2 linked regions of the Homo sapiens genome follow. The protein of the gene in region 2 purifies or fractionates together with the protein of the main gene of each other region. This does not show direct contact. Each region holds a gene or a part of one and is shown on either strand. Other genes may lie near its edges. The genes, in order: OSER1 and TRMT13.

Region 1 (3,924 bases), on a different chromosome or scaffold from region 2:
ATCTCTTTGACAAGCCTTCATTGGTTTAAAGCATATGAATTAGCTTCTTGCTATCAGGTGTACATCATTTCTGCCATGTGGGACATTTTCTTGGGAATATACAAGTAATACTCCATGTAGCCTGACAGGTCCTCAATGGTCACATCATCCACGAAGACTCGAGCTTGCTCAGAACAGGATCGGGGAGAGCCAGACAGAGTTCTGGCGTGCAGCGACTGAGAGTAGTCCTCAAGTGTGGATCTTCGTTCTGGAGCCAAGGGAGGGACACTCTGCAGGCCTGAAAAGGAATACACTTCCATATCATGCCATCTCTTACACTGGCATTCCTTGCCTATGCATGTGCATGGCTTGCCCTGGTTTAGCTTGGAAACTGATTGAAAGTCAGAGAGATCACTGGCTTTGAGACTTGCTTGGGGGACTTGGGTAGCGTCAGAGGAGTCTTCCTTCTTACTCTCTGATGGGAGCCTTGGAACAGAAGTTCTCAAAGGCTCAACGACTGCCCCTGTGTGATTAGCATCGAGAGAAGTAGAGCTTTCTCCTGCACTGAACTCTTTAGGGGATGAAATTCCCAGCCCACTGCTGCCATCAGGTGAGTCAGTCTGGCTTTTGTGCTTGAGTTGACTGCTGGAAGAAGACGCTATTGTACTGCAATGTATAAACTTTGGAGGATGAAGGACAGGAGACTTAGAACGTCGACGACGCTGAGTTCTCACTGCTCCTCGTGAAGACTTCCTTGTAGACCTAAAGAGGAAAAAAAATATACAAGAAGATGTTGGGATATGGAGCTGTCCTAAACAGATTCTTTATGACAGTAGGAAATTTACCTTCCCTCAGCTTTATGAGTCTAAGCTCATAAATTTCCTGCAAGAGATGCACCTTCCTCCATTTTCATGCTGCCTAAGTCTTTGTGTCTCAACAACTTCAACATCATCTTATTAGCAAGCTATAGAACGAGGTGAGATAATGGTATTTTTTAACTGAATCACCTGGGCCAAACATTTGGGACAGAACACCTGCCCTGTTCCAACTCTAAGCTTGGGAGCCTTTGACCAGTGGGTCTGAGGGAAGCACCTCAAACATACAACTGAAACCGATCCTGTGAAGCCTAAATATTGTGCCCTAAACCTGAATATAGCAGCTTCAGAACCACTGTGAGGCTAACGTTACAAATGACCATTATGCCATTACTATTAAATAGATTTCTGATTCATTTCTATCATTGGTAACAGCCAATCAATCAAAACCAAAAAACTAACAATATTTACAACCCCTGAGGTTTTCAGATACTGGGAATTACTGGACACACTATGTAAGATAACTATTTATAAAATATTTAAATAGCCAGGCGCGGTGGCTCACGCCTGTAATCCCAGCACTTTGGGAGGCCGAGGCAGGTGGATCACGAGGTCAGGAGATTGAGACCATCCTGGCTAAAGCGGTGAAACCCCGTCTCTACTAAAAATACAAAAAATTAGCCGGGCGTGGTGGTGGGCGCCTGTAGTCCCAGATACTTGGGAGGCTGAGGCAGGAGAATGGCGTGAATCTGGGAGGCAGAGCTTGCAGTGAGCTGAGATCACGCCACTGTACTCCAGCCTGGGCAACAGAGCGAGACTCCGTCTCAAAAATAAATAAATAAATAAATAAAATAAAATAAAATTAAATAAAGAACTGAATGAAAAGAAAAGATACTCAAAACTGCTAAGTGAATTAGAGACAAGAACCAAACAAGACACTAAAAAGCTAAACAGAACACAGTAATCCCATCTTATCCATGGTTTCGCTTTCTACAGTTTCAGTTACCTGCAGTCAACCATGGTCTGAAAATATTAAATAAAAAATTCCAGAAATAAACAATTCATAAGTTTTACATTGCGCCCCACTGTGAGTGGCATGACAAAATCTTGCACCATCCTGCTCCGTCCCACCTGGGATGTGAATCATCCCTTCGTCCAGGGTATCCACACTGTATATGCTACCTACCCATTAGTCATTTAGTAGCCATCTTGGTTATTAGATCAACTACCATGGTACTGCAGTGCTTGTGTTCAAGTAACTCTTATTTTACTTAACAATGGCCCCACAGTATAACAGTAGTGATGCTAGCAGTTTGGGTATACCAAGAAAAGCCACGAAGTGCTTCTGCTGTGGTTAGAATGTGTCACCCAAAAGTTCATGTGTTGTCAACTTGGTCCCGAATGCATCAGTGCTGAGACCTTTGGGGGTGATTGGGTCACAAAAGGACTCTGCCTTCAAGAATGGATTAATCCATCCACAGATTAATGAATTAAAGGGTTATTGAGGGACAGGGATAGTTATCACAAGAACGGCTCTGTTATAAAAGCCGGTTTGGCTACTTCTCACGAGCCCCCTTGCCACGTGATATCCTTCCCCATGTTATGATGCAGCAATGATACACTCACTAGATGCTGGTGCCATGCTCTTACACTTCCCAGCCTCCCGAAATGTAAGAAATAAGTCTCTTTAAAAATTACCCAGTCTCAGGTATTCAGTTACAGCAACAGAAAATGAACTAAGACAGCTTTCTTTAAGTAAAAAGGTGAAAGTTCTTGACTTAATAAGGAAAGGAAAAAAATAAATCGTATACTGAGGTTGCTAAGATCTACGGTAAGAACGAATCTCCTATGTGAAAAATTGTGAAGAAGGAAAAACAAATTTGTGATAGACTTGCTGTTGCACTTCAAATGTGAAAGTTACAGCCACAGTGCATGTAAGTCCTTAGTTAAGATGGAAAAGGCATTAAATGTGTGGGTGGAAGACATGAACAAAAACGTGCTCTGACTGATGGCAAATGGGTTTGATATTGTCTGCAGTTTCAGGCGTCCACTGGGGTTCTTGGAACATATCCCCTATGGATAAGAGGGGACTTGTACACACAGCTAAAGAAAGAATGACTGACGGGAAAATAAATCTGAATTATTTGTAACAGGGGCCAGCAAATTACAGCCTGTGGGTCAGATCTGGCTCCCTGCCTGTTTTTGTACAGCTTGTGGACACTGCTCCAGTGGGCTAGCACTGTGAGCCACAGACCAGGCTAGGGGATCCTCCCCTGTCCCTATTCTCCCTGCCCGCCTTCCTGGCCAGTAGACAAGCTGCACCACTGTCCAGCGCCCGCACTAGCTAACATCTACATGTTGGGTCTCTACTGTTGGCAACTGCTGATCATTGAGAGGCAGAATCTCAGTTCAAGACTCCAACCAATGCTGGGATCTCTGGAGGAGAAAAGAGCATGCTGAGATCTGAGCCTCACTGGGACAGAAAGTAGAACTGACCCTGGCACTACCTGCTACCCACCCATTCCACAAGGTTCTCCTTTCAGGCTAGTCACTCTATCCTGCGACTGTCTCAGCAACTGAAGACAGAATGTGTCCACCAGCCAGGACGGCCAACCCCAGGCAAACAGGGTAGAGTAGGAGTTTTCTCTCTTATTTAAGCACTTATTAATATCCTTGAATTTTTGCTTCTTGGCCTCCAACGGCTAAAAAATTTACCATACGGTGCTTTACAAAAAAAGTTTGTCAACCTCTGACCTAAAAGGCAGTACAGAGACAAGGATTTGGAAAAAATGTAAAAGTTAAGAGAGATGACAGAGTAAGTCTGGAATTTCTGAAGAAACGAATACAGAGAACAGAGGACAAGTGATTTTTATAGACATAATGACCAAGAAATTTTCTGAATTGATAAGAGAATCTATGAACACAGGAAATACACTGGAGCAGGATAAAAAGAAATCCACATAAGAGACACTCTGTAGCAAAACTATAGAATAGCAAAGACAACAGGAAGATCTTAAAAGCAGCCAGAGACTAGAAAGATTATTTCCAAATTAATAACAATTGGATTGAAGGTATGCTTTTCAATACCAATGTAACGAAACCAGAAGACAATGAACTGTACCTAATTTAA
Region 2 (3,924 bases):
TGTGTCTGTTCAATCAAAAACATATACATATTTTAAAATTTTATTACCCTAAGATATCACAAATGACTATTAAATGATCTGATATTTCACTAGTAAATTTAATTCAATATATGAATTTAAGTCAACAAACATTAGAAACCCATTATTTGCAGAAAGTGATAGCTAATCTATTATTTCATAAACTATTATTTTCTGACAAAATACATTTAGTCATTGTTTTATTCATATTTGACTTAAGTAAGTGATTTTCAGAAATGTGAATAACCAGATAAATTATTAAAAGAATTAAGTTATTTCAGGCCAGGCGCAGTAGCTCACGCCGGCTGAGGTGGGCAGATCACGAGGTCAGGAGATGGAGACCTTCCTGGCTAACACGGTGAAATCCCGTCTCTACTAAAAATACAAAAATTAGCCGGGCGTGGTGGCACGAGTCTGTAGTCCCAGCAATTCGGGAGGCTGAGGCAGGAGAATCGCTTGAAGCCGGGAGGCGGAGGTTGCAGTGAGCCGAGATTGCGCCACTGCACTCCAGTCTGGGCGACAGAGCGAGACTCCGTCTCGAAGAAAAAAAAAAAAGAATTAAGTTATTTCAGAATTAGAAGGAGCTTTAGCAATTTATCTCAATTCATCTTTTATAAAGAACTTAAAAGACAAAGCCACATATGCAGAAAGGGACAAGGAAACACAGCAAATTGGTAGCCAAGATTATTCATTCATTCAAATATTCACTGTGTTCCTGTTATATAGCAAGCATCGTACTAAGTATATACCATATACTCAAAAAATTCAGAGCATGGTGGAAGAATTAGATATATAAACAGATAATTAAAATACCACAAGGTAAAAATATGCAGAGGGTATTATGATAACACCAAGGAGGCATATCTTATTTAAGGGAGCTCCCTGAGAGTGGTGACAACTGAGGTGAAGGATGAGTAAAAATTGACCAGTTGTTTTGTTTGGGTGAGTAGGTGAATGGGGGTGAAATTCCAGATATAGTAGAAATAGTACAGTCTATGGAAAAGCACACAGGGTTTGATGTTGCTGAACAGCAAAGTAGGAGACAGGGAATGTAAAGAGAGGAAGGCTGAAGCCAGATTGAGACTAAAACGTTATGTCAAAGAGTTTGGACTATATCAGGAAGTACCGAAGAGTTTAAAGGGAAAGACACATTAGTTGTGTAGCAGATGGGTCTGAGATTGATTGACCGATTGAGATAGGGTCTTGCTCTGTCACCCAGGCTGCAGTGCAGTGGTGCTATCCCAGTTGACTGCAGACTCAGACTCTTAGGCTCAAGTGATCCTCCCACCTCAGCCTCCTGAATAGCTGGGACTACATGCACAAGCTATCGTGCCCAACAAATTTCTGTAGAGATGGGGTCTTCCTATGTGCCCAAGCTAATCCTGAACTCCTAGCCTCAAGCAATCATCTCACCTCAGCCTCCAGTGTTGGGTTTCCAGGCATAAGCCACTGTGCCTGGCCTGAATATTAGTATTTTAAGGACAGAAGTGGAAGGAGACTGTGAAATAAACAGAAGAATGGCATAGATGTAGGGGAAGAACCAGGAAATAAGAGTATCGCAAAAGAGAAGAAAATGGAATTTCAAAAAGGGTAAGCAACTGCAGCAGAGACAAAAGGAGGATTCAGATACAGTGAATCAAGGGAAAAAATTATGTGGAACATGAGAAATGGCCACTGTAGGTCAAAAGAGTGTACTCCCTCCTACCCCCGGGATGGAACTGGTTTACTTTAGAAGACTTTTATGAGGCTTAAATGAGATAAGGTATGCAAAAGTACAGTCATGCATTGCTTAACTATTGGTGTATGTTTTGGGAAATGCATTAGGCGATTTCATCATTGTAGGAACATCAGAGTGTACTACACAAACCTAGATGGTGTAGTGTAGCCTACTACACACCTAGGGTGTATGGCACAGCCTATTGCTCCTAAGCTACAAACCTGTACAGCATGTTACTGAATACTGTAGGCAACTGTAACACAATGGTATTTGTGTATCTAAATACAAAAAAGGTACAGTAAAAATATGGTATAATTTTATAGGACCACTGTCATATATGAGTCCATTGTTGACCAAATCATCGTTATGTTGTACATGACTATAGTCTTAAAAACTATGAAGGCCAACACAAATATATAGTACTCAATGCCATTTCCAGCCAATATGAATAATATCTATGGATGCTCCAAGTAATCCATATGGGTAGATGATGAAACTAGCAAAAGTTAGGAAGATGATGTAACAATAATTAACATTTATTGAGCACTATTATGTGCCAGACACTTTACATGCAACCCGGTAAATTATTAATATATTAGTATCTCTGTTTTATAGATGAGGTAACCAAAGCTCAGAAAGGTTAAGTAATTTGACAAGGTTACACAACAAAGCTGAAGGCTAGACTATCTGATTCTAAAGCACATGCTGTTTCCACTTTACCATGCTAGATCTGATGGATCAAAGTGCTAAGACAAGACATCTTAGATTTTTTTTTTTTGTCTAACATTTATTTTTTTCTTTTTCCCCAGAATCCTGAAACACAATAGTCTTTTAGTAGAAGAGGTTTCTGAGTTCTTTCTAAGCAACTACTCTAAAAAATCAGTAGCTTCTAGGTGGAATCATACAGTTTCCATAAATGGTCTTATTTTCCTTTTCTGGTTGAAATTTAACCCAAAGAACTTTAAGGTCTAATGTGATGCAGTATTTACATACAAAACTCTTAATTCATCCTGCAAAATGGCCAATATGAGCAGATAAATAGGAAAGCTATGCATCTAATAAAGCACAGGGCCAGTGCTCTATAAAGATTATTGAGTTGTAAACATAAGATATCTATTCAAAAGAGACCACTGAAATGGTTGGGGCCAGGTTAGGCCAAAACTTAATGCATTAATGTAAACATTATCAGTATGTTTACGTACCTGTTGCCATACCACACAGATGCTTTCCAATTCCTACCACAGGTAGTTTTTCTTCTCTTAGCACAGGAATCTTGTCTGAAATGGAAATGAGAATTAACTGTCTAGTGAAATAAAGTACATATTAATGTGGCCTTCCAAAAGAAAGAACTAATTAGAGTCTCTGAATTTTAGCCTGAAAGAGACTCAAACAAAAATTATCACTTTATGGAACCCAACATATAACATAAGAACTTGTTTAGGGTTCATAACATCAGAAAGTTAATATATTCAGCTAAATAATTTTAAATACATTGATTTCTATACAAATGCTGGGTTGCTTTTCATGGCTGGATTAAAATTGGTGAATGGAAGAGGTTGCAAAGATATGTTTGCATTATTTTCTTTGGATAATCTGAAAAATAGAAAAGGTATAAAAAGGGCACTACAGAGGTTGATTGAGGAGTTTGTGTGTGTATGTGTCTGTGTGTGTTTTGTGTATGGAATATGAATCCCACAGTGATGACTTCTTTTGTACAATTTAAAATTCTAGGAAGTATCTTTTACACATTAGCTAGGCAGAGAAATATCTCATTTTCTTTCATGGTTTAGGTAAAGTCACGTTAACTGCAGGCAGAAGGCTAGTTTATAGTTTGAACAGACTCAAAATTAATTTAAACAGGACAAAGAAACAACAGAAGTACATATTATAAAACTTTTAAACTCTTCCCTAATATAACACTTCATTTCCACTTGATACTGAAAATTTTTAAAATTCTCAACCTTAATTCAATTTACATCTATTTAAAAACATTATATAAAACATTCTATATTAACAATGAATTGATTTGACTGTTTTCCCTGAAGCACAGTTCTGCATGATTGGATTTCTAAGCAACCTCAGAGTTTAAAACAGTTATGATTTATTTGTAGACCAATGGAAAGTTACACAACTTACTCAAACACAAGTGTTGAATATCAATTTGAAGTCTTTCAAACACTGAATTTTTC

Evidence for each region.
Region 1: the proteins of TRMT13 (region 2) and OSER1 purify together in Homo sapiens (affinity purification with mass spectrometry; 2 studies listed by BioGRID and IntAct, with this or other methods). This does not show direct contact.

Annotation. Positions count from the first base shown.
Region 1 is NC_000020.11:44,196,999-44,200,922, forward strand, and holds part of OSER1 (oxidative stress-responsive serine-rich protein 1), read right to left. Parts: intron 742-3,924; coding exon 54-741; 3' UTR 1-53.
Region 2 is NC_000001.11:100,143,157-100,147,080, reverse strand, and holds part of TRMT13 (tRNA:m(4)X modification enzyme TRM13 homolog), read right to left. Parts: coding exon 3,872-3,924; exon of another isoform or gene 3,867-3,871; intron 3,013-3,866; coding exon 2,938-3,012; intron 555-2,937; coding exon of another isoform or gene 409-554; exon of another isoform or gene 1-408. UniProt on the Homo sapiens protein: tRNA methylase which 2'-O-methylates cytidine(4) in tRNA(Pro) and tRNA(Gly)(GCC), and adenosine(4) in tRNA(His).